Homo sapiens: one gene and its partners. The protein of the gene in region 2 purifies or fractionates together with the protein of the main gene of each other region. This does not show direct contact. Each region holds a gene or a part of one and is shown on either strand. Other genes may lie near its edges.

Region 1 (3,500 bases), on a different chromosome or scaffold from region 2:
CTAAATCAGATTTGCATACATTTAAGAAATCAATCTTAAGATCAAACTACTTAAAAAATAGCTAAGAATCCACTTTAAAAACTAAGCCTCAGACTGAAAGGCTTTCCCAAGAATGACTTTGTGATGAAAAAGAACATAGATTTATGAGTAAAAGAGCAGAAGTCAACTTGCAATTTGCTACATTTGATAAAAGACTAGCTGAGGTGAAAAAAAGATAAAAATCAGAAAACCAGAACTTGAAATGTGCAGTAACATAGTAAGAAATTTATTAGTAGAAGATAATATACAATAAGAAATGGGGTTAACAAATAAAGAAGCATGAAGAAATAAATGGCAGTATAAAGGTAAAAGTAAAAGAGACCAATTAATAGCAAAGGATTATCTCACACATATTTCTGCACTAATAAAAGTAAAAATCCTATGGAGTAGGAGCAGTGAAAAATGTTACAGTCTTTTTTTTTTAAGATATAAAGGAGTTGCAGAATCACCACAAATTCTCTAAACAGTGCATTGAAAATACAAAGTTCATCATAAAGCACAAAAGGCACGAAAAGTATTAGTCAAGGAACAGATTAGGCACACAAACTATTTGAATACAAAGAGGCCAGAATAAAATATCCGAAGAATGAAAAACACCAATAAAGGGCAATCAGATTTATTTAGAGCTAAGGAAAACTAGGGCTGTACTCACGGGGAAAAAGGTGGTTAAGAGCAAATATGGCTGAAGTCTTCAAGATGCTAAAAGGGATAGTGAGAGCGGACATAAATATGATACCCAGGGATATTGTTCCAGATTCAAGGTAAATGGAACAAAAACTTCAAATCAAACTGCTTAAGAGGTGATCTTAGAGAGTCATACCAGAAAAAAAATTGAAAGGCTATTTTAGCAAAAATTCAACTTAAAACATTACAGACTAAAATTTCTATACCCCATTTCTTCATTATCTCAAATTATGTTAAGAATTAGATGAGGTAGACATATCACTTTAAAAATCACAAAATCAATTCACCCACTCAATATGTTTAAGTCTAAATGACTGTAAGAGTACTAATTTGGGGAATGAGGTAGGAACGAGCAAGAATACACTGAAAGCCCATCCAAATCAACAGACTGTATAATTGGCATTCTGTCAAGCAAGGACAGATTCCAAATGCCCTAACATCCCCTTACATGCAATCTACATTTACCTTTTCTAGTTCTATAAGAAAGCTGTCCAGAGACTCATCTGAGAGTTTGCCTACTTCAAACATTGTGACTGCATGACTTTTCAAGTTCTGAAAAAAAGAAACAAAATATTAAAGTTCTACTTCTCCCTTTTTATGCTAAGCATACTATCAAATATTTATATTATCCTTTCAAATATATTTAAACTTAAGGATTGGGGGGTGAGGGGCTAATTCTTCCAATTACAAAAGGACCTTCCCTGAAAGTTATTATACTCCTCTAAGTCAGTTGTGCTTCGGGAATAAATGTAGTACTTTAAAAAAGATATAAAAGCATTAAATTATTTTATATCTAGTATTTATTTTAAACACCTTCATATTTAAACAAGAATTGGGCTTACTGGTGAAAGATTTCCCATCATTAAGAAGGCAGTAAGAGTGGAGTCAAACAGGAATGCGATGCGCTTCGTGTGTCCTGTAGACAGACTCAGGCTGCTTACACTGGCTGTGTCAGCTGAAAAACACCATAATTTAAAATCAAGTAAATGGAAATTATTCTTTGCTTACCATTTGGAGTGAAAGTATTTCATTTCAGCTTTATTTGATAACCAGAAAGTACATAATTTTAAAAAGGCACTATTATAGCCATAAGAAGTTCCAGCCATACCTATTTTGAAGCGCAAAGAATATTAAAAAGCATTTAACCCTAGGCCTTGTCCACTATGCTGTGTTTCCCTTTGGGCTTAGCCTCACTATTCTCTCGGGCTGAAATGGCTTTCCTTCCCTGACCAGCTGGCAGGCTCTTCTTCATTCTTAGCTCAAATAACATCTTCTCTGTGAAGGCTTCCCAAACCTCTCTAGCCAATTAAGGGTCTCTTCCTCTTTGCACCCTACAAGCATTATAATTGGTGCCCGTGTTGTTGTAATTTGTTTGGTCACATTCCCTTCTCTCTCCTTAGACTTAATTCTTAGAAGAAAGGTACCATATTCTTGTCAGTTTTATATACCTAGGACTTAGCACAGTGCCCAAAATATAGTAAAACACTCAAAGACTGCGTATTGAATAAAATCTAAACTAAAATTAGAAGGTAACTGTAAGAGTGTATGTTTGGACATGTGCCGTACCTACAGACAGACTCTATGTTAAACTGAGTTACTGCTAACCTGGATCTTCTTGACTATTTGTATCAGTGTCAGTTGCCGATGAAGCTTCTTGTACAGGACTCCTACTTTCCCCTCCATCCCATGACAAGAGCATCTTCTGTGGATCTAAGGTACTCCTATTAATGAAGAATGCATTTGCTTTTTAAAAATCATATAAATGACCTTACATTAAAATATCTACTGAAGTTAAGACTTAAATTATGAACAATCCATCAAAATTCAGTCTTATATTCAAGCCCAAAATTAAGTCGCAGCCCAAAAATGCTCTGCCTACATACAACAAGGGTTCTTAACTAAGATCCACGGATAGGCTTCAGAAAATTCAAGAACCCTTCAAGATTTTATGTAAAATATTTATTTGCTTTTTTTCTGGGAAAAGCCTTCTTAGTTTTCATTATATTCCAAAAAAGATCTGTAACACACACACAAGATTAAAAATCACTAATATAAAGGGCTCACCTCAACTGACAGGTTGAATAAATAAAATTTCTGGGCCAGGTGCAGTGGCTCACACCTGCAATCCCAACACTTTGGAAGGCCAAGGTGGGTGGATCAGTTGGGGCCAGGAGTTCGACACCAGCCTGGCTAACATGGTGAAACCCCACCTCTAACAGAAACACAAAAAATTAGCTGGGCATGGTGGTGCACACCTATAGTCCCCACTACTCAGGAGGCTGAGGCATGAAAATCGCTTGAAACGGGGAGGTGGAGGTTGCAGTGAGCCGAGATCGCGCCACCGCACTCCAGCCTGGATGACAGAGAGAGACTTTGTCTCAATAAATAAATAAATAAATAAATTTATGTATGTAAAATTAAATGTCTTTTCAAAAGGAAACTCTAATAGCTCATACTGAATAAATTTAAGTTACTTTAATCTGTTTACGGATGGAACATTCTTCCATGATGAATGAAGTTGATCCAAATTAATTACTTGTCCCTTCTTATGGGCAAAGCCCAATCGGCAATACATTGAAACAGCATTCTGAAAGGAATATAAAGGAAACTAATTACCATTTAAAATAAACTAGACATCACAATATTTGTAGAGAAAAAATAGTGTAATAGACTAATAGTGATTCTCAAACATTTTCATCCCGTAACCAGAAACTATTTTCAGTAGACCTGCTCCTCCCTTGAAGTCTTCATAAATGTATAGGAGGGAATGTTTCCAA
Region 2 (3,500 bases):
TGCCAGGCATTAGTCTAAGTGCTTATGTAGATTAATTTATTTAATCTCCACACCAGTTTTTTGAGGGCAGCATTATTACCATCTTCATTTTACAGATGAGAAACTATGGCACAGAGAGGTTAGGCAACTTGCTCTCAGCCGTGTTACTACGAAGTAGTAGAGCAGCTTCCAACCCAGAAAATCCAGCTTTCAGAGCACCAACTTTTACCCACCACACAATACTGACCCATGTACCCTAAAGAAAGTACACAGATCAAGTATTTAGCACTTGATTTTTGCAGTGTAAGAAAACAGTTTCACTGATATTTCCTCACTAGAATTCATTATGGAACTCAATAGTGAGTTCCATTAGGTCTGTAGCTAAGATCAGGCCTTTCTTATTCAAACACGTAAGATGTGGGGCAAATAAAAGAGGACAGGACCTATTTTTAGCCTGGCAAAGTTCCCTGGATCAATAATAGCCAAAATAGCAACAGGGTCCAGGTGCCACTACTCTTGACGCACTGCCACTGACCCTCTCCAGACATCCTGCCTTATTCCCTGGGCATCCTGATTAAATACAGTAAATAAGTAGCGTCTCCTGTACCTTTATCCTCCCTCCATTCAATAGCCAACTTGCACCAATGCATCTCCTTACTGACCTCAAGACTCTCTGGCAATACATAATAGGTTCTGCCTTGAAAAAGAATTTGGACTATATGCAAAGTTCTTGGCATCAAAGAATTCTCTCCCTCATTCATTCATTCATTCATTCATTCATTCACAGAAGCAGCAACCAAATACAAGTGGCAGAAATTGCTATAGGTTGAGTTTCACTTACCCAAAATGCTTGGGTCTGTAAGTGTTTGGGATTTTTTTGGAATTTGGAATATGTGCATATACATAATGAGATATCTTGGGGATGGAACTCAAGTCTAAACACGAAATTCATTTATGCTTCATGTACATCTTATACAATATATTTAATAATTTTGTGCTTGAAACAAAGTCTTGACTGCATTTTGACTGGGACCCATCATATGAGGTCAGGTATGGAATTTTCCACTAGTGGTGTCATGTCGGTGCTCAAAAAGTTTTAGATTTTGGAGCATTTTAAGATTTCAGATTTTTGGATTAAGATGCTCAACCTGTACTGCCAGTCTAGTTAAAACCTCAGGCTTTCACATTAACAGAATCCTAGCTCCATCACTAACCAGCTTGTGTGATCCTGGGCTTCTCTAACCTTCTGTTTCCTCATTAGTAAATGGTGATACCAAGTACCTACCCATAGAATCTTGTGAGGATTAAAGCAGGTATTGTGTGTATATGGCAGACTAAGCACCCCATAAATGTTTAGTTAGACTAAGCACCCACTACCTTAAAGATCTAAGCAATTGCTAAATCTGGTCAGATTATTCTTTCAGACATCAAAGAAATACGAGCTTTAAAATATTTTCATCTAAAATGGTAAGATGTGCTGGCATATTTAATGGTTGCTATTATGTGCTGCATCCCTAATAATGCTGGATAGCTTTACGGTATTAACATTCTGACATTCTAGAAAATGAAAGGTATAACAAGTACACATGCACACACACACACACCAACTACAACCCGAGGAGAATACAGTTGAGCATCCCTGTGCTTTCAGAAGATAATAAATTGGAATTGGCAAAAAAGACTTTTCTCACTATTTGGCTCTATAGTTTCCCTCAAAATCCTATTTTTTACAGGGTGCAAAACACTTATATGAGAACACTTAGGAATAAGCAATCTTCCTACAGCGTAGTTAACTTCAGAGTGTCTTCTATCTATCATGGTGATGTCATACACTATTGGTTATTTTGCTGTTCCTATAATCAAATAAATATAAGTCTAATAAACTTAGGTAAGTGTTCAGCAAGTTTTCAGCAAAACTGTTAGCAGAACTATTCAAGACCTAGTCTTAAATAAAAACAAAAATGGCCAAAATCTGGTTGGTTCATGAAGTACCTTTAAGGTGGCTGCTATTTTGAAGAAAGTCATACCACTGGTTTCCTTCTGTGTTAGGGGGTGACACAAGATCATCATCTTCATCTTTCAAGTACTAGAAATACAGAATTAGAAATTTAAGTTTATTCATACCTGGAAGGGAAAATGGAAAAAGAAAAAAAGTAAAAGACAAAAAAAAGTTAAGTTTAGTAAATCAAAGACTTAGGGCCTAAAATCGGTTTATTTTTAACACTTTTTTAACTTAATAAGTTACTTTGTTTTATTGCCAAGTCCTCTGAAAGTGCATTACTATCATTCTAAGTGAGGTAGCCAAAATCTGCTATGTGTATGTGGCAGAATTAAGCCCTCCATAAATGTTAGCTAGCTACTATCTTAAAAATTAAAGAAACTGCTGAACAGTTGGTAGTTTGTTTAGTCAAGCAACTAAACAAACCACAAAGTATTAAAAGATTATTATGTTGTAGATGTAGAGATCACAAATCGAACTTAAATTGTGTTTCTTTTTCATGAGCATATTTTAATTTAACATATGCAAGTTATAAATTAGTTTCATAAGTATCCATTGTCAATGTACTGTCAATATACTCTATGGCAGTTGTTCTTCAAGTGAGATCCACAAGCCCCTGGGAATCCCCAAGATGCTTTTGGGGATCCACAAAGTCAATACTAGTTTTATAATAATGTAGCTGTCACCTGCCCTTTACACTATGCTAACATTTGTACTGATGGTGGGGAAAGCTGTAAGTGTCTCAGCCAAGAGTCAAGGTAGTAGTCCCAAATCATACCAGCAGTCACTGTATTCTTTTTCTGCCACATACTCATAGTTTCATTTATCTTTAATGAAGTCATTAAATTATTAACTTTATTTTCAACCCTTGAGTACGAATCTTTAATATTCTGTGTGACAGAATTGAGAGTTATACATAGGAACTTTTGCTACACAAAGTATGATGGTTATCTTGAGGAAAAGCACTTATGTTAAAAGCAAAAATAGGCTGGGCACGGTGGTTCATGCCTGTAATCCCCGCACTTTAGGAGGCCATGGCAGGCGTATCACTTGAGCCCAGGAGCTCAAGACCAGCCTGGGCAACATGGCAGGTCTCCACAAAATAAAGACAAAAATTAGCCAGGCATGGTGGTGTGTGCTTGTAGCCCCAGCTACAAGAGGCGAGTCCGAGAGGTGGAGGCTGCAGTAAGCTGTGATTGCACCACTGTACTACTCAGAGGAAATATCTTGTCTCAAAAAAAAAAAAATTTTTTTTTTTTTTGGAAAACCTGCATCTGCCCCTGTGTGCTTCACAACACAAAGACTTTTCTGATTAAATTGGTGGTGCTATTAATGAAATCTAGCTTATAGTTTGATAAAAGGTGGCGGCATTTAGAACAGCTGGATGACTCAGGGAACCAATACTTCCCAAATGACCAAAGCAGGATGTTACAAAATTATGCGTGGACAAAAGATCCGTTCAAAGTGCAAGAAGATGAATGAATTTTAATGTAAAAAACGTTCACTGATGCAATTTTAGATT
Region 3 (3,500 bases), on a different chromosome or scaffold from region 2:
CCAAATAGAAATCAATAACACATAAAATCTCTCTGGAAACATACACAAAAAACAGATGGCAATCACTGCCTTAAAGAGGAGGAAAACTAGCTTGGGACAAAAGCAAAAGGGAAAACTTCATTGTACATTCTTACATACCTTTTGAATTTTTAATTTTAAATAAATTGAATACATAAAATCCACTAAACATTTACTATGCACCTTTCTTCCTTCAAGGAGCTCATGTGTTATTTTTATGTTTTTTAATCCCAAAAAATATATAATAGATACATTCCAGTATCAGCATGTGATACAGTTCAGCTGTGTCTCCAACCAAATCTCAACTTGAATGGTATCTCCCAGAATTCCCATGTGTTGTGAGAGGGACCTGAGAGAGGTAATTGAATCATGGTGGCTGGTCTTTCCTATGCTATTCTCATGATAGTGAGTAAGTCTCACAAGATCTGACGCGTTTATCAGGGGCTTCCGCTTTTGCTTCCTCATTTTCTCTTGATGTCACTATGTAAGTACCTTTTGCCTCCCGCCATGATTCTGAGGCCTCCCCAGCCATGTGGAACTGTAAGTCCAATTAAACCTCTTTTTCTTCCCTGTCTCAGGTATGTCTTTATCAGCAGCATGAAAATGGACTAATACAGTAATTGGTATCAGTAGAGTGGGGCATTGCTGAAAAGATACCCAAAAATGTGGAAGTGACATTGGAACTGGCTAATAGGCAGAGGTTGGAACAGTTTGGAAAGCTCAGAAGAAAATGTGGGAAGTTTGGAACCTCCCAGAGACTTGTTGAATGGCTTTGACAAAAATGCTGATAGTGATATGAACAATAAGTTCCAAGCTGAGGTGGTCTCAGATGGAGATGAGGAACTTGTTGGCGACTGGAGCAAAGGTGACTCTTGTTATGTTTTAGCAAAGAGACTGGTGGCATTTTGCCCCACCCTAGAGATTTGTGGAACTTTGAACTTGAAAGAGATGATTTAAGGTATCTGGTGGAAGAAATTTCTAAGCAGCAAAGCATTCAAAAGGTGACTTGAGTGCTATTAAAAGCCTTCCATTTTAAAGGGGAAACACAGCATAAAAGTTCAGAAAATTTGCAGCCTGACAACGCAGTAGAAAAGGAAAACTCATTTTCTGAGGAGAAATTCAAGCTAGCTGCAGAAATTTGCATAGCTAGAAAGGAGCCTAATGTTAATGCCCAAGAGCATGGGGAAAATGTCTCTAGGGCATGTCAGAGCCCTTCAAGACAGCCAATCCCATCATAGGCCTGGAGGCCCAGGAGGAAAAAGCGGTTTTGTGGTCCAGGCCCAGGGTCCCTGTGCTGTGTGCAGCCTAGGGACTTGGTGCCCTGTATCCCAGCCCCTGCAGCCGTGGCTGAAAGGGGACAATGTAGAGCCTGGGCTGTGGCTTCAGAGAGTGGAAGCCCCAAGCCTTGGCAGCTTCCACATGGTATTGAGCCTGTGGGTGCACAGAAGTCAAGAATTGAGGTTTGGGAACCTTCACCTAGATTTCAGAAGATGTATGGAAATACCTGGATGCCCAGGCAAAATTGTGCTGCAGGGGTGGGGCCCTCATGGAGAACCTCCGCTAGGGCAGTGCGGAAGGGAACTGTGGGGTCAAAGCTCCCACACAGGGTCCCTACTAGGGCACTGCCTAGTGGGGCTGTGAGAAGAGGGCCACCATCCTCCAGTCCCCAGAATGGTAGATCCACTGACAGCTTGCACTCTGTGCCTGGAAAACCCATACACGCAATGCCAGCACGGGAAAACAGCCAGGAGGGAGGCTGTACCCTGCAAAGCCACAGGGGTGGAGCTGCCCAAGACCATGGGAACCCACCTCTTGCATCAGCGTGACCTGGATGTGAGACCAGGAAGTCAAAGGAGATCATTTTGGAGCTTTAAAATTTGACTGCCCCTCTGGATTTTGAACTTGCATGGGGCCTATAACCCCTCTGTTTTGGCCAATTTCTCCCATTTGGAATGGCTGTATTTACCCAATTCCTATAACCCCACTGTATCCAGGAAATAACTATCTTGCTTTTGATTTTACAGGCTCATAGGTGGAAGGGACTTGCCTTAACTCAGATGAGACTTGGGACTGTGGACTTTTGGGTTAATGCTGAAATAAGACTTTCAGGGGTGTGTTGGGAAACCATGATTGGTTTTGAAACGTGAGGACATGAGATTTAGAGGGGCCAAGGATGAAATGAAATGGTTTGGCTGTGTCTCCACCCACATCTCAACTCAAATTATATCTCCCGGAATTCCCATGTGTTGTGGGAGGAACCCAGGGAGAGGTAATTGATTCATGGGGGCCAGTCTTTCCTGTGCTATTCTCATGATAATGAATAAGTCTCACGAGATCTGATGGGTTTATCAGGGGCTTCCGCTTTTGCTTCTTCCTCATTTTCTCTTGACACCGTCATGTAAGAAGTGCCTTTCACCTCCCACCATGATTCTGAGGCCTGTCCAGCCATGGAACCCTAAGTCCAATTAAACCTCTTTTTCTTTCCAGTCTCGGATATGTCTTTATCAGTATGAATAGGGACTAATACAGTATGGCAAATCATACTTTCAGAAACAAACTTTATATTTTTGTAGAGTGTAAATATCAGCTTGAATATCAAAAGACCCAAGTTTTTGCTGGAGCTTTGCTAATAATAACTAGATGTGAACGGCTGAATAAATCACTTAATCTGCCTACACCTCAGTTTCCTCACCTGTAAAATAAAACATTATACAATATGATCTCTAAGGAGTTTTACTGTGATAGATATATATACATACAAAATGGAATACTCAGCAGTAAAAAGGAATTAATTAATGGCATTTGCAGCAACCTGAATGGGACTGCAAATTATTCTAAGTAAAGTAACTCACTTATTCTAAGTGAAGTAACTTAGGAATGGAAAACCAAACATCATATGTTCTCACTCATAAGTGGGAGCTAAGCTATGATGATGCAAAAGCATAAGAATGATGCAATGGACTTTGGGGACTCGGGGGAAAGGGTGGGAAAGGGGTGACGGATAAAGACTACAAATTGGGTTCAGTGCCTACTGCTCAGGAGATGGGTGCCCCAAAGTCTCACGAATCATGTAAAGAACTTACTCATGTAACCAAATACCACCTGTTCCCCAAAAACCTATGGAAATAAAAAAGCATTTTTTTTAAAAAAAGGCATTTTAAAGTTTTTTTTGGACCTAAAAATCTATTCAAAAATGTAACAAGGACTGTCATACTGTTTCTATTAATATTCAATACTTTGTGGACCAGAAAGTATCAACCCTGTGACATTGTGTGTGTGTGTGTGTGTGTGTGTGTGTGTGTGTGTGTGTGTGTTTGTAAATGTTCATTCTGTTAATTCAAAACTGGTGAATTCCACTAGATGTAGAGAACCAGTCACTAGAAAAAGGGGAAGGAGTTCCCTAAGTCTAAAGGGACAACTGTGTTCCATCTAGTAAATATGCTTGAGAGAAAATAATTTGGGAAGAAATAAACAGACAAATG
Region 4 (3,500 bases), on a different chromosome or scaffold from region 2:
TAGGCATTTATTGCACGCAGAACCAGAAAGAAAGAGGTTCCCATGGGGTGTAAGTTCAAGCCATTTCTGGTGTAAGGGAAAGGTCCAGGTCATAAATATGCCACTGACCCTAGCACACTCAAAAGTTTATATACACTCTTCACTCAAGGACAAAATTCTTCTGTTGGGTTCCTCTGGTCTTTTGACATCTCCTACAGAGCTTATAGAATACAGTTAACTGTAAAATAAATTTTAAATAGATACATACGTTTCTGTGGCAGGATCATAAACTTCACAGGAATTAAGCACTCTCCCAGAAACATTGTTTCCTAAACTTCCACCACAAACATAGATTAGGCCATTGGCTTCCACCATCCCATGGCTGCAGCGCTGGGTCAGCATGCTGGGCTTTGTGTGCCAGCTTTCAGTTCTCGTATCATAGCACTCAAATAAATACAGAGCTGAGTTTCCTGTAAAAGAAAAAGGCCCCATCATGCTTAACTTTAGTGTGTGCGGGGGTTTGGAAAGAACTGACTGTAGATCTTATTAGTTAAGGAAGGAAGAATTTAGGGTCATACGGCCATTTTCATACTCAATCAACAACAACAAAGTGTAGGAATAGTTTAAGAAAACGCTAATAATCCTGTTTGTATAGACCCTGGAAAACATCCTTAAAAGGATCTGTTGGAAATACTTATTTATTGGTAATTAAACTTTAGAAAAATAAATTTGATTTCAAAAGAAAAATTAAATAAGAAGCCTTATATATGTCTTCAAGCCCCATTATGCATGACGGGAATTATCCATACTTCAAATGTTTATATAAAGTGGAAAAGCATAATAGTTCCTTACAGATGGTAGACCCATACCTTAAAATATGAAAACTACTATCTGATCATATTCTTATTTAATATTCTGGAATAGCTACAGCACCATTAACAAAATTATATTTCCTAACTATTCTCAGTTAGTGTGGTATATCCTGAAATCACACTGGTCCCTGCTTGAGTATATTCTCAAAATATTGATGTATATTTCTGATGTATTTTGATTACACAATTTAAAGGCAAAACATACATTCATCATGTTTTGAAACTTCTACACACTGTAGGAGTTCAATAAAAAATTTTAGAAATGATACTATTAAAGTTTAAGTGCTTTTTTTTTTCCTTCCCAAGGACAAAAAATTTTAGAAGTTACCAAACTATTTCTCATCTCCCACCATTCTGGGCTAATATCAAATGATTTAAAAACGACAACACCTTTATAATTCTGCGTTGCAACTAAGGTCTGTGAAAAGTAAAGATCAGAAAATAACAACTAGAAGAAGCAATGGTCATGACCAAAAATAACTTATTTTTAACTTTTTAAACATTCCTGATTTGGTAGGTTCAGTGGGTGGACACTATAGGAAAATATATAGTATATAGTAGATTAAAAAAAAACTACTACTTAAGCTAAAAACACACTTAGCAAAGGCTGAAGAAATGAAGTTATCTGCAGTACCACAGAACAGTTACCGTCTATCATCTTTAGGATTTATTGTATTTGAAATATTCTACATTATAACAGTCTGTGAAGAATGCTTTTAAAGAGAGGAAATGGTTACATTTAGGAAATAGTGATTTTTCTTGTATTCATTTGACATATAGTTGAGGGTAAAAACATAAGTATGCAGACCAAAAGTATAACCATTTACGGTCTCCCTAGTTTTCTTTATTAGCCCATTATTTAAGCTAAAGAAATTACTTGAAAATGAAAGCATACAAAAGCTATTATGTATCTAGCCTGCACCTATTCATTTAGAAAAATTATTCATTTAGAAAAAGAGCACTACTGGACACTAACACACTATCCAATAAGGTTTTTATATCCACACCCACATCCCATTCTGCTCAATAAGCATAAATACCACTACAGTCATTAAAAACTTAAAGAATAAAACAAATGAAAAAGAGCATTCTTTTTTCTAATAAAAAGAAAGCAAATATAATACAAATTTTAAAAGCCTGAATATAGTAACGAGTTCTTAAAGAGTCTATAAGTTGAACTCTGAAATCTTTAAAACAAATAATATTATGCAGCCCAAATAATTTAGAACTATAATTCAGATAATGTCAACTAATGCTTCATTATGATAAAAAAAATGGGCCATTAATCTAGGAAGCTAAAGTTCTGTAATTTAATGGTTTGTAAAGCAACGACATAAACCTTCAGGGAGATGAGCTCTAAAATGTGACAAACACATATTTAAATTACCAAGAAAGTATCTGGACAAATAATACCAGCTGTTTATTTAAATATGAAAGCCAAGATACTTGGCTTTAAAGCATATGCCCCAAACCAAAATACTTAAGAAGTCCTTACCTACTTCTGAACCTCCAGATGTATAAATTTTGCCTTCTGCAGCACATGCAGCAAGGCTGTCTCGAGGTGTCGGAGGACCCAGTTTCGAATACCAGCTATCCTTCACTACATTATAGCAGTCCATTCGCTTTATTGGGAAAAGCTGAGAGCCTCCCAAAATGTATACTACATTGTCCCAAAACACGCATGCTGCATCTCTTCGTTTTTCAAAGGGGCAGCGGATGTCTGTCCAGCTATAATCCTGTAGCAGAAAAGGATGGGAAGCTTTCAGTAAGGAAAAAAATATAACTGAAAAGGACAATGCAAAGATACAGTCAAAAAACATATAAGAATATGTTAATTTATTAGACTACACATACAAATGTTTGGCTTGAGACTATTACCAATTTAATCTTGTGTGGTTTCTGCAGAATGTTGATTAGATGGGGCGGAGGGCAAAAGGCAGGCACATGACTGCTTTGGGTCCTTTCTGGCTCTAAAATAAACTTAAATATATTTGGATATACCATCACCACCCTGTCTTCTATTCCTTCTGTTATTGAAGACAATACAAGAAGATTCTAAAATAAGTTGTTTTATTTTTTAAAAAAGCTTTTTCAAATGTAAAGGTCTCCATCCCTTCCCTGCCAGATATATAGTGTGATATAAGTAATCAATGGATAATATGAAGCTCAAATTGCCATTATCCTACTGATAGTCTAAAGCCAGAAGGTATTTTGTGGACTTCTTTATTAATTTTCTATATTGAGTTGAGCCAATGTAGTCAGCTGGACTTTAAAACTGTTGATGTTTATAAGGAAATACTTGAGTAATCTCTTCTAAGTACTCTGGATACTCACTTTTCACCCCAATGATTAGAAATACACACCTATCAGTACTTGACAGTAAGGGCTGTTCACAGCATCTGTTTCTTCACTATGTTTGATAGCATCGAAGAATGCTTGTGCCGCCCTTCCATGTATGTGCATGGGGGGATGCCCCTAAAGTTATAGTATCTTGGACCCTCTCTTTTTTTGAGATAGGAAGCTACAGCGTTCCTGCTATTTTCTGAAAATAATCAGGGTCAGATAGGAATTCATACCATTCCCAATCTCACCAAGGAAAGCACTATGTGTGATTATTGAGTTTCCTTCGAGAAAATCTGACTGATAACC
Region 5 (3,500 bases), on a different chromosome or scaffold from region 2:
TGGGCTACAGAGACCCTGTCTCAAAAAAAAAAACAATAAGAAAATAAATAAATAAAAATAAATAGGTCTCGAAGAATGCACACAAAACTGTTATACGTAAGTGGTTACACCCTGGCGTAAAGAGATGCACTTTAACTTTTTCTTTATATATTTCAGCATTGTTACATTACTTTTATAATTTAAAAACTTTCAAAAAAATCCATACAGAGAAAGAGGAAATAAATACAGTTGTCTCTCAGTATCCATGGGGGATTTGTTCCAGGATCCCCCAAAATCCATGAATGCTCAAGTCCCTTACATAAAATGATTTAGTATTTGCATATAACCCTATGCACATCCTCCTGTATACTTTAAATCATCTCTAGATTTCTCACAATACTTAATACAATGTAAATGCTATGTAACAGTTAAGGAATAATGACAAGAAAAAAAGTCTGTCCATGTTCATTTCAGATGAAACCATCCGTTTTTTGGCCCCTGAACGCTTTCAATCTGCAGTTGGTTGAATCCACTGTTGTGGAACCCACAGATACAAGGGGCCAACTGTGTACCAAACACATTAGCAACACTGGCTTTGGGACATATTTACAGGTGGAGTCTTTTCTTTCCTTTTTACTTGTTTGTACCTTCCAAGTCTCTTACAATAAGCACAAATCCTTTCCAAGTCTCTTACAATAAGCACAAATCCTTTCTAAATGGAGAAAAAACTGCTAATAAAAATTGCATGGTATATGTGGAAGGAATGTCAATCTAGATTCCAAGGCATCAAATCGATTACTCGAATCTTGTGGAAGTTTACATTACCTCTTTTAAGTGTTGGGATTACAGGTGTGAGCCACTGTGCCCAGCCTACATTACCTCTTGAAGACTCAGTTTCCTCATCTATAAAATGGGTTTGCTATAAGGACCAAAGATTACATCCACTAAGAGACAAGCACATCCCAGGCAGGTGGTAGGGGCAGAGTAGATGAAAGCTTCCATCACTGTCTAATACATTTCTGATGATAGATCCTGTTGCCTGTACCCCAGGTGGGTTGACCCAGGCAGCAGCCTTGAAGAGGTGGCTGCCAGGGTCAGGATACGGGAACCGGCTCAGTCCTAGCACACTCATGCCTCCCCAGTCTTGGTCAGCAGCAGCTGACACCCTGGCTTACCTTGCTGGGCTCTGCCTCATCTGTCATGACCCCTGTCATAATGACAGCCTCATCCAGGGAGTAGAGCAGCCCTTCCACGAAGTGGTTCTCCTGCCGCTGGGACTCGTGGGTGAACTTGGCACAGATAGCCTCCAGGCCCCGCACTGGCTCGAAACGCAGCTTGACGTACTTCTTGGCAGGGATGATGCGGATCTCAGCGGCCACCAGGAAACCCAGCGTCCCACAGGACCAGGGTACGGCATAGAACAGGTCTGAGTTTTCGGACTGTGAGACAGAATTGATGTGTTGTGAGCTGAAACCTTGGGCCCCACATTGTGGCATGCAGTCAGTGGGGGAGCAAAGCCTGGGAGAGTCCCTATTCTCTCACTCTCTTGTATAAACCCAAACAATGAGCTTTACAAACTGTGCTTGCTGGGCTTTAGTTTCCTCCCTGCAGCTTCGACATGACATGGAACCTAATACTGCCCTCTGTCTCAGGGACCCTCACTGAGAGAGCATCCTCCTTCTCCCATCTAGGTACAGCCCCTGACCCAGAGGCTATTCAGGAAAAAGCTGGGACTGGCACTGCTGCCCAACGACCCACAATGGCAGGGGCATTGCACAAGGGCAGGAGTCCAAGGCCAGGCCTTGACACCCTTTAGTGGGTGTCAGGCAGTGTAGCTGGGGAACATTAAAATGCCTCCCTTCTGAACCATTACTAAAATTTACAAGGCCTTTCCCAGTCCATCGGCTTGTGGGATCCACCCCCGACAGAGCCCAGGGAGAGCGCTAGCACCCCCTTATGACAAGTAAAGAAACTGAGTCTCTCAGAGCTGCCATGACTCACCAAAGTCTTCCCAGAAAAGTCAGCTGCAGCAATGCCAGGGCTCAGGCAAGACCACCTAACTCCCCGGCCAGCGTTTTTCCTACAACACCTCATCTGCTTCCATAAATCAATGTCCAACCTCATCATTTTATTGTTTTGACATTTGTCTTGGACACAGACAACTGACTTTTCCTTGGCCATTCTGATTGGGATTCTTCAGTTCTAGTAAAGAAAGCTCTTTTGAAAAAGTCCAGCCATGTCTTGCCTTTACTAAGAGGACAGCCCTGTGCAGTCTCCACAAAACCTGAATGCTCTTGGTGGTGGGCACAGTGAATGCAGCAGGGCAGGAGAGCTGGAGCAAGGAGGCTCTGCAGCAGGCTGGCAGAAACCTCAGGAACAGCAGCACTACGCTCACCAATTCCCCCTTGGGCCCACAGCTAATCACATTCTCCTGGCCATGGCAGTGAAGATGACACACTTGCTGCATGCTGAGCTCTATGCAAGGAGCTTCCCATACAGGACCTACTTATTCCTCTCAACCACATATTTGTCAGTGAGGAACCTGGGCCTCAGAGAAGGGAAAGAATTCACAAATGTCAGTCTCCTTTCTCTGCCGATAATAAATAGGTCAAAAGACAGGGCCCCGCAAGCGTTCAGGAAAGCAGGATGAATTGATGTGAATCTTGCTAGGGGTATCTCTCATCCAAGACCAGTGCTGCCAAGCTGGGAGTCTTTCCTTGGGCCCTCTTCTGTGAAGTGAAGGAGTCGGGTGGCTCCCTGAAATACCCACTTCAACAGGACCAACTGTCCCTCCCATCCCAGGGGTCCCTCACACCTGCCAGGACAGATCCAAGGTTATTTAAAGTGTCACTCCTATCCCACCCCTTAGGTAAAACGCTTTAAATGTTTGAATCCCAGTTTGGGTGGTAGAAGTGTTTCTTATTTTTCTAAAACATCCTCTCTAATCACTTTTACTTACACGATTACGTGCTACATAAAGACGTTGCAGTCAACAATGGGCCACAGATAAAATGGTGGTCTCATAAGATTATAATGGAGCTGAAAAAGTCCTGTTGCCTAGTGGTATCACTGCTATCACAGCTATCCTAATGTCATACTCATGTGTTTATGGTAACACTGGTGTAAGCAAACCTACTGTACTGCCAGTTGTATAAAAGTATAGCACATATAATTATGTACACTACATAATACTTGATAATGATAAATGACTCTGTCATTGGTTTATGTATTCACTACACTACACTTTTAATTGTTATTTTAGAGTGTACTCTTTCTGCTTATTAAAAAAAAGTTAACTGTAAACAGCATCAGGCAGGTCCTTCAGGAGGTATTCCAGAAGAAGGCATTGTTGTCAGAGATGACAGCTCCATGTGTGTTATTGCCCCTGAAGACTTTCCAGTGGGACAAGATGCGGAAGTGGAAGCGTTATTGATAATCTTGACTCTGTGTAGGCCTAAACTAACATGCGTTTATGTCTTGACCTTTTTTCTTTGAGACAGGGTCTTGCTCTGTCACCCAGG
Region 6 (3,500 bases), on a different chromosome or scaffold from region 2:
TAATATTATTATTAATGTGGCACATTAAACCACATGCAGTTAGGTTATATGGAGTTACCAGTCAGGCTCCTGTTTAAATTGCAGAACAGGAATGGCAATTATAATTCAAACTGCCATTTGATTTGGCATTGATACTGATTTGGTATCAACAGACATTTAGGAGATAGTTACCTCTTAAGGTGTGGATACCCATTCATGTTTTTGCCTTCATAAAGAAGGATGGTACAAAAAGAAAGGTATTCTTCGTTCACAGTTTTTATTTCTTCCAATTAACTTTTGTGTCTTCAAAGTTGATTTGTCTTTTAAAAAATTAATACTTCTTACTCATACAATCTACACCACCCCAAGGAAAACAAACCCAGGGAAGGGTAATTTAGGGGGCAGTTAAAATGTGCACTATAGGTTTATAACAAATGCTTTCCAGCCCATAATCCTGTACATATGCAACAAAATGGCACCTCAAGTTCATCTGAATGAAGGCCCAAATAATGCAAGCGAAGGCCATGAGAATAACAAAACAAACAGAAGCTTAGTCACTGGCTTCATTCACTTTGTATGGTAGCACAGTCTTCAAACTGTCTCACACTTGATCAAGAGTAAGCAAACACAGAGACAACATCTTGACTCAGCCATTAGTAATTATAAGTGAAACCAGAAATAATTTACCTGGGCCACAAAAAGGAATTGTTTTGTCCTGTTTTTCATTAAGTCCCTAGCACCTGAAACGTAGCAAGTTCTGATACTGGGCTTCTAAAGGCATGCAGTTTTTCACTCACATCTACTTCAAAGAATTTCTTCCACTGAAACATAGCACAATCAAGGAAAAACTTCTTCTGGAGGCAAAGGAAGAGCACAAGTATATGTTGAGGCGTAATGTATGACCAAGATGGTACACTATATATAGAAGCAGTGAATGCTGTTAAAGTGTCACTCACAAAGGGATAGTCTAACATTAACACACAACTCAACTGCACTGCTAAATATGGTTGTCTTTATTTTCTTTTTCCTTGCCCAGCCCTATCTAAACATAAAATAAAACTACAGGACTGAAATTAACAATCCATTAAAATCAGCAATAAGTTATGAAAATCATAAAGCTTTTTTTTTTTTTTAAGTAATTAAGGGTAGTTAAATTATTTAAAGTATACAAAGTCCAAACAGCCAGGGGTAAGGTCTCCAAGAGGCCTTCCCAGGGTAAGGGAGAGGGCCACAAGGGAACCTTGGAGTTTGAAAGACAAAGGGAACACATGACATCAAAGTGCAGGCTAGAAATTTCACTTAGAAGAAAATAACATTACTGAAAATATTCGTAAGAGTAACAATAGCACCTGCACAGTGGGACTGTGAGGAAGAGAGAGACTGCCTGTAGGAAAATGGAAGCAAATCTTTACATTAAAATGAGACAAGTGCTGAACTTACTATGTTAACTATGATAGTGTGTCTACTATAGATATCAGATGGTTAAAAGCTGGTAAAAGGTAATGATTCTAAAAACAAAAATAGCATTGACCCTTTTTCTACCTAGCCCAGACCTCATTCATTTTGTGCACTATAAAGAGTGAGGTGTGAGGTGTTTTATCATTATCAAATGCTGCATCAAAATAGATGATTTTTTTCCCCATGTGTTTTTCCACTATAAAAGACATCTATTTTTTTTTATGGATAAGCTTTAAAAAGATGTCATTTTGGTTTTCAACACATATAAACAGTTATCAAAATCTGAAATAAAAATGCTGCTGTGGCTCAGACCTTGGCCTGCTAATCTGCGTGCACAACTCTTCTGACCCACGCAGACAAAGAGGCACATGGAGCTTTTTCCTTTTGGCCCCCCCAATCCATACTCATAGGCCTTGTAGGATAGAGGCTGTCATGCATGGACTGCTCCCATGTGGCCTAAGGGCAGCAGGATGGAGAGGTGGCAGCTGGGTGCCTAGTGCTAACAATGCAGGATAAGGTTAGCTTGCTTAGCATGGAATCCAACAGAAAGTTGAGCTGCATGATGATCCCTTTCAAAAGGCTTCATGGGAGTCTCTCCTTTTGCAGAGCATGAAATGAGCTTTTTTCAAAAAAAAAAAATAATAATAAAGGATTGATCATCCACAGGCTTCATGATAAACTGTCCCAGGCTGAGTTTTAATAGCTCATTATTAGCTATCCAAGATTAATACCTGATTTTCTTGTCTTTTCATTCGAATAGTTTTTATTTTGCTTTTAGGACCATAAAGCTCAGGAAGGGTTCATAACCCCATCCTTAAATGTGTCTACTCAATGTAGTATGAGCAAACTAGAAAAGAGAAAGAGGATGGCATCTCCAATGTCCTCTTCTCAATCAACTCAAATCAAGAAAATTTCACACAAGTTTTCTGCTGCCATTAAAAATTGTGATTTTTCCAATATGAATATTCTGAATATTTGTTCTCCTTGGGAGGCTCTGCCCCACTTTTTGCTAAGTATTTGCTTAAATACAGGTCCTCTGACCCTTTTGTTCAAGTATAGTTTTGTTTTGTTTTGTTTTGTTTTAAAGAGGAGACTGCATCATGAACCCAATTTAAGAGATTGTTTGTATTGAATTGGCCCAGTGAATATTTTGCCCTGCACTGTTATGTCATGCTGGGTTCTATGAAGTGAATGAAAGTTTGACACTGGCACTGGAGTAACCCTCGTCACTCCCAATACTCGGCAGGCTGCTGTGGTCATCAATGTCACTGATGCTGGTGGTACTTATATTGTCCACTTCTCCATGGGAGAACTCTGTGCTTTCAACATCCACTTCAATCTCCTCTGCCAAAGGAAAAAAAAAAAAGAAGAACATTAATTATCGAGTATAGCGCACCTTCAAAAACTAACAGCATGAGGAAAAGAGGTATAAGAAATGTTACACAACAAGCTTATTATCAGTGATGTCTGGAGAACAGAGGAACAAGGTGAAGAGACAGGAATATTTTTTGCCAAGGGGAATGTCTGATATACAGTGGTGGTCTTAATTTAGGCAGCAAATTTCCTAAATCCTTTGACGCCAGTCCGTCTGGACCTCCCTAAAGCACTTGGCGTATTTGGGAATTAGTGCTTAATATTAAAAGGTCCCAACCCCCAAGTGGTTTAAAAACATCTGTTTTGCATTAAACCACAAACTAATTCTCAGTTCTGTTTATTAATCAGGGTTGCCTTAAAGGGTGGGCAGGAGCATAAACTTAATATAGGCAAACTAGAAAATTTACCCATCCAAGCCTTTGGTGGTGCCATTCTACAGATAGTTCAACAGACTTCTAGGATTCATCATAAAGATCTTCAACTAGTCAGTCAAACAAGTCATTATAAAGTAGAGTTTGAGGTATATGTCTTAGATTTAATTTTCTTGCATCAAATATAGCTTGAAATAAGGGCCTGAGACTTAAAAGTCTTCAGATTATAGTGAGATCCATTTTGGTGGTAGTATACAGACTTAAAAGCCAAACATTAAAAAAAAAAAACACCACAAATACATATTTGACTCAGCTATC
Region 7 (3,500 bases), on a different chromosome or scaffold from region 2:
AGCTACCTTTCAAAGAATACCTGACATATGTCAGAAATTCATCCTAGGAATTGTAAAGTACAGTGTTCTAATCTTCACAACTTTATAAAGAAAGAATAGCCCATTTTAACGCCTGAGGAAAGAAAGTAAAATCCAAAGCGGTTAAGGGACTTGCCCAGAGTCACACGACAGAAAGGATACAGCTAGGAATTTGGCCAGGGATTCATGGCTCTCATGCCAGTGTTCTTCTACTGTACTATGATTTTTAGACAGGCAATATGGAATGATAGTTTAGAGCACTGATTACAGAGGCTGACTGCAACAGTCAGAATTCTGGCTCTGTGGCCTTAAGCGAAGTTATTTAAGTTCTTTGTGCCTTAGCTTTTTCATGCAAAAAGTGGGAATATTAAACTAGGTCACAGGGCAATTATGAATCAAGACACTTACTGCACATAAAATCATTTCCATCAGTAGGTGTATGTAGATTCTAAACAAACTCATTCAAGGAATTAGCAATAAAAAATATGCCACATGGATTGATACACAAAACCAAATGTGCATTCTGTAAACTTTTCAATGATAATACAAACACATGCAGGGGATTACTATGTGCCAAGACCTGTTGTAAGTACTTTATAAACATTAATTCACTTAATCCTCATAATAAAATGCCCCAAGAAGCCTAGCAAGCTTACGTGACTTTATATTGCCAATTTCATAGAACTGATAATATCCTCTCCTTTACCTGGACTCTTCGTAGATGAGCCACACGCTCCTCTATAGAGGTCTGCAAGGCCAAAGGGACTTTCAGAATTTCCTGGTAATTGTCCATCAGAAACGTTACCAATCTAGCAGCTAATAACTCATCCAAGTCCACTTCATCCTTGGAACACAAGATGCAACGGGAAAATGTCTGAACCATCTAAAAAAAGAGCGGGGTGGGGGGTAAACGCAGATGAGTATTTTTCTGAACTGAGTGCAATCTAATTTGCAAAAGGCAAATATGAGAAATGGTCTAAGGCACAGGGTGCATATTCTACCAAGAGTACCCAGCCATCTCAGATGGGTTGACGGTCTCAACAACCAGAACAAACAAAATGTGCATCTTCCTGTTAAGAGACTGCAGAGAGATGCTTATCTGAGCAATTTTTAAACCTCCTTTTACACGATTTTAAATATACATATATATATATATATATATACACACACATACACACATATAAATATATGAAAACAAATTTTGAAAATCATTATCACCATGACTTGAATCATGTAGCACTACTAAGTTCAAAGCACTTTATAGCCATTTAGTCAATTATTATTTATCCTAATTTCATTATTGATTTGTTTTAAACCGCTAACACAGTCCACATGCCTCAACCATTACATCTTTTCCTAGTTAGCTTATTTTCTCTAGGATTTTCGATGTATATTTGACAATCATCTTTGAACAAAGCCATGGGACTTTTCAAGAAGTACATTAAGTGATGAGACTCTCTTTGAGGCAAGCAGAAATGCAAAATATATTATAGCATCAATGTAATAATTTCCATAGAATTGAAATTAACTATTCTTTTTTTTTTTTTTTTTTTTTTTACGGAGTCTCGCTCTGTAACCTATGCTGGAGTGCAATGGTGTGATCTTGGCTCACTGTAACCTCCGCCTCCCAGGTTCAAGCAATTCTCCTGCCCCAGCCTCCCGAGTAGCTGGGATTACAGGCGCCTGCCACCATGCCCAGCTAATTTTTGTAATTTTAATAGAGACGGGGTTTCACCATGTTGGTCAGGCTGGTCTAGAACTCCTGACCTCAGGTGATCCACCTGCCTCGGCCTCCCAAAGTGCTGGGATTACAGGAGTGAGCCACCACGCCCAGCCTAACTACTCCATTCTTAATACTGTTCTTTGGACTGGCTTTTGTTTTGTTTTGTTTTTTCCTACTACTTTTATCGCTGACAATCTTCCTTCAAAATCTTTAAGCAAAAAATCATGTAATTCTGCTTAGTAACACTTCATTAACACACTGCAAATGATCTTCACTTACATTTACATGTACAGAGAGACACACAGGCAGAGAATTTTTTGCCTGGAGACCATGGACCCCAGGGACTCTGTGATCGCCTTGAAACTGCATGCAAAGTTTTGCATGTGTATTTTATATGCAGAATAGATATAAAGTTTTCTTCAGCTTTTCAAAAAGGTCTATTAGCCTCTCTAACCATCCACTCACTCCAAAAAAATATAGAGATCAAGAATCCTACTGGGCACTAAGTGCTCCTCTGATCTCACTCTATTACTTCTAAAACTGGGCCAGTGAATCCCCAGGGAGTACACGGTGTTTTAACAGGATATGGAAAGCACATACATTCCACTGAAGCACCAGTTTTGCTCAAAGACATTTTTTGAGGAAAATCAAGAGATTTTGCTAGTAAGTAAATTCTAAAATAAACTCTCTTTAAAAACATATGCCAATAGAAGCAGAGATTAGATGGTAGGTACCACAGGCTGGGGGATACAGGGACATGGAAATAGATGTTGGTCAAAGGGTACAAAGATCCAGTGAGACAGGAGGATCAAGTCTTAATGCTCTAGTGCACAGCACGGTGACGACAATTATAATAATATATTGTATATTTCAAAATTGAGAAAAGAATAGATTTTTAATGATCTCATTACAAAAAAATGATAAGTTGGTATGGTAATGAATCTGTTAATTAGCTTGATTGACTCTATAATGTATACATGAATTAAAACATCACATATGCAATTATTAGTTGTCAATTAAGAATAAATTTAAAATAATTTTAAGTGGGAGAACAGGATGTAGCAGATCTCTCTACAGAGTCTGCCCCTACTCAAGTCTCCATTTCTCATTATGTTCTTTAAGACACTTAGAACAAAAGCACGACACAAGTCTGGGTGGACACTGACTGTGGCTCTTTTAAGCAAGTCTGCTTTGTACTTCCCTCTGATCACCCAAACTAATACACCTTACTCAGTCGACTTTCATTCCAAAAAGTCATACCTGATGTTAAAAATCAACCTACCAGTGTTCGGGTACCAAAGCCATCACACAGGGGTGGCATCTCTTTGTTTAAGCAAATCCTTGCCATCATCCTCATCAATAGCTGTAACTTTCTCCTATTTTCAGGAGGTAGGAGAAGGCAGCAAATCTGAAATGCTTCAACTGCCACTTTCTCCTTCTGTAACAAACCTGATTTAGAAAAAAAAAAATGTTATCTTTCAACACCTATAGCCTAGTAGATTCTATATGGTTGTATTTTAACAAAATATATATTAGTAAAATTACATAAAATATTTTCACATATTCAACTATACTGGGTCAATTGAATATAGATCCATTGTCACTCACAAATCACTATAGAAAATACAAACCATCAACCAGGCATGACAAATATATAGAACCAAATACAGCCATTTTCTCCTCCCATACACTAGACAGATATATCTCAATTTTCATAGCACTCTTTCCCGAACCAGGAGCAGCCAGGCTAACACTATCA

The links.
Region 1: the proteins of ANAPC4 (region 2) and FAM91A1 purify together in Homo sapiens (affinity purification with mass spectrometry, with the first as the bait; one large-scale study listed by BioGRID). This does not show direct contact.
Region 3: the proteins of ANAPC4 (region 2) and NUP35 purify together in Homo sapiens (affinity purification with mass spectrometry, with the first as the bait; one large-scale study listed by BioGRID). This does not show direct contact.
Region 4: the proteins of ANAPC4 (region 2) and KLHL7 purify together in Homo sapiens (affinity purification with mass spectrometry; one large-scale study listed by BioGRID and IntAct). This does not show direct contact.
Region 5: the proteins of ANAPC4 (region 2) and DHCR24 purify together in Homo sapiens (affinity purification with mass spectrometry, with the first as the bait; one large-scale study listed by BioGRID). This does not show direct contact.
Region 6: the proteins of ANAPC4 (region 2) and MXI1 purify together in Homo sapiens (affinity purification with western blotting, with the first as the bait; one study listed by BioGRID). This does not show direct contact.
Region 7: the proteins of ANAPC4 (region 2) and DEPDC1B purify together in Homo sapiens (affinity purification with mass spectrometry; one large-scale study listed by BioGRID and IntAct). This does not show direct contact.

Annotation. Positions count from the first base shown.
Region 1 is NC_000008.11:123,785,439-123,788,938, reverse strand, and holds part of FAM91A1 (protein FAM91A1), read right to left. Parts: intron 3,311-3,500; coding exon 3,198-3,310; intron 2,445-3,197; coding exon 2,329-2,444; intron 1,679-2,328; coding exon 1,566-1,678; intron 1,276-1,565; coding exon 1,189-1,275; intron 739-1,188; coding exon of another isoform or gene 706-738; exon of another isoform or gene 692-705; intron 1-691. UniProt on the Homo sapiens protein: As component of the WDR11 complex acts together with TBC1D23 to facilitate the golgin-mediated capture of vesicles generated using AP-1.
Region 2 is NC_000004.12:25,408,263-25,411,762, reverse strand, and holds part of ANAPC4 (anaphase-promoting complex subunit 4), read right to left. Parts: intron 2,066-3,500; coding exon 1,972-2,065; intron 1-1,971. UniProt on the Homo sapiens protein: Component of the anaphase promoting complex/cyclosome (APC/C), a cell cycle-regulated E3 ubiquitin ligase that controls progression through mitosis and the G1 phase of the cell cycle.
Region 3 is NC_000002.12:183,151,943-183,155,442, reverse strand, and holds part of NUP35 (nucleoporin NUP35), read right to left. Parts: intron 1-3,500. UniProt on the Homo sapiens protein: Functions as a component of the nuclear pore complex (NPC).
Region 4 is NC_000007.14:23,164,785-23,168,284, reverse strand, and holds part of KLHL7 (kelch-like protein 7), read right to left. Parts: intron 2,588-3,500; coding exon 2,347-2,587; intron 450-2,346; coding exon 248-449; intron 1-247. UniProt on the Homo sapiens protein: Substrate-specific adapter of a BCR (BTB-CUL3-RBX1) E3 ubiquitin ligase complex. The BCR(KLHL7) complex acts by mediating ubiquitination and subsequent degradation of substrate proteins. Probably mediates 'Lys-48'-linked ubiquitination.
Region 5 is NC_000001.11:54,870,196-54,873,695, forward strand, and holds part of DHCR24 (delta(24)-sterol reductase precursor), read right to left. Parts: intron 1,419-3,500; coding exon 1,155-1,418; intron 1-1,154. UniProt on the Homo sapiens protein: Catalyzes the reduction of the delta-24 double bond of sterol intermediates during cholesterol biosynthesis.
Region 6 is NC_000010.11:110,284,105-110,287,604, reverse strand, and holds the end of MXI1 (max-interacting protein 1), read right to left. Parts: intron 2,782-3,500; coding exon 2,618-2,781; 3' UTR 240-2,617; downstream 1-239. UniProt on the Homo sapiens protein: Transcriptional repressor. MXI1 binds with MAX to form a sequence-specific DNA-binding protein complex which recognizes the core sequence 5'-CAC[GA]TG-3'. MXI1 thus antagonizes MYC transcriptional activity by competing for MAX.
Region 7 is NC_000005.10:60,602,667-60,606,166, forward strand, and holds part of DEPDC1B (DEP domain-containing protein 1B), read right to left. Parts: intron 3,191-3,500; coding exon 3,024-3,190; intron 902-3,023; coding exon 725-901; intron 1-724.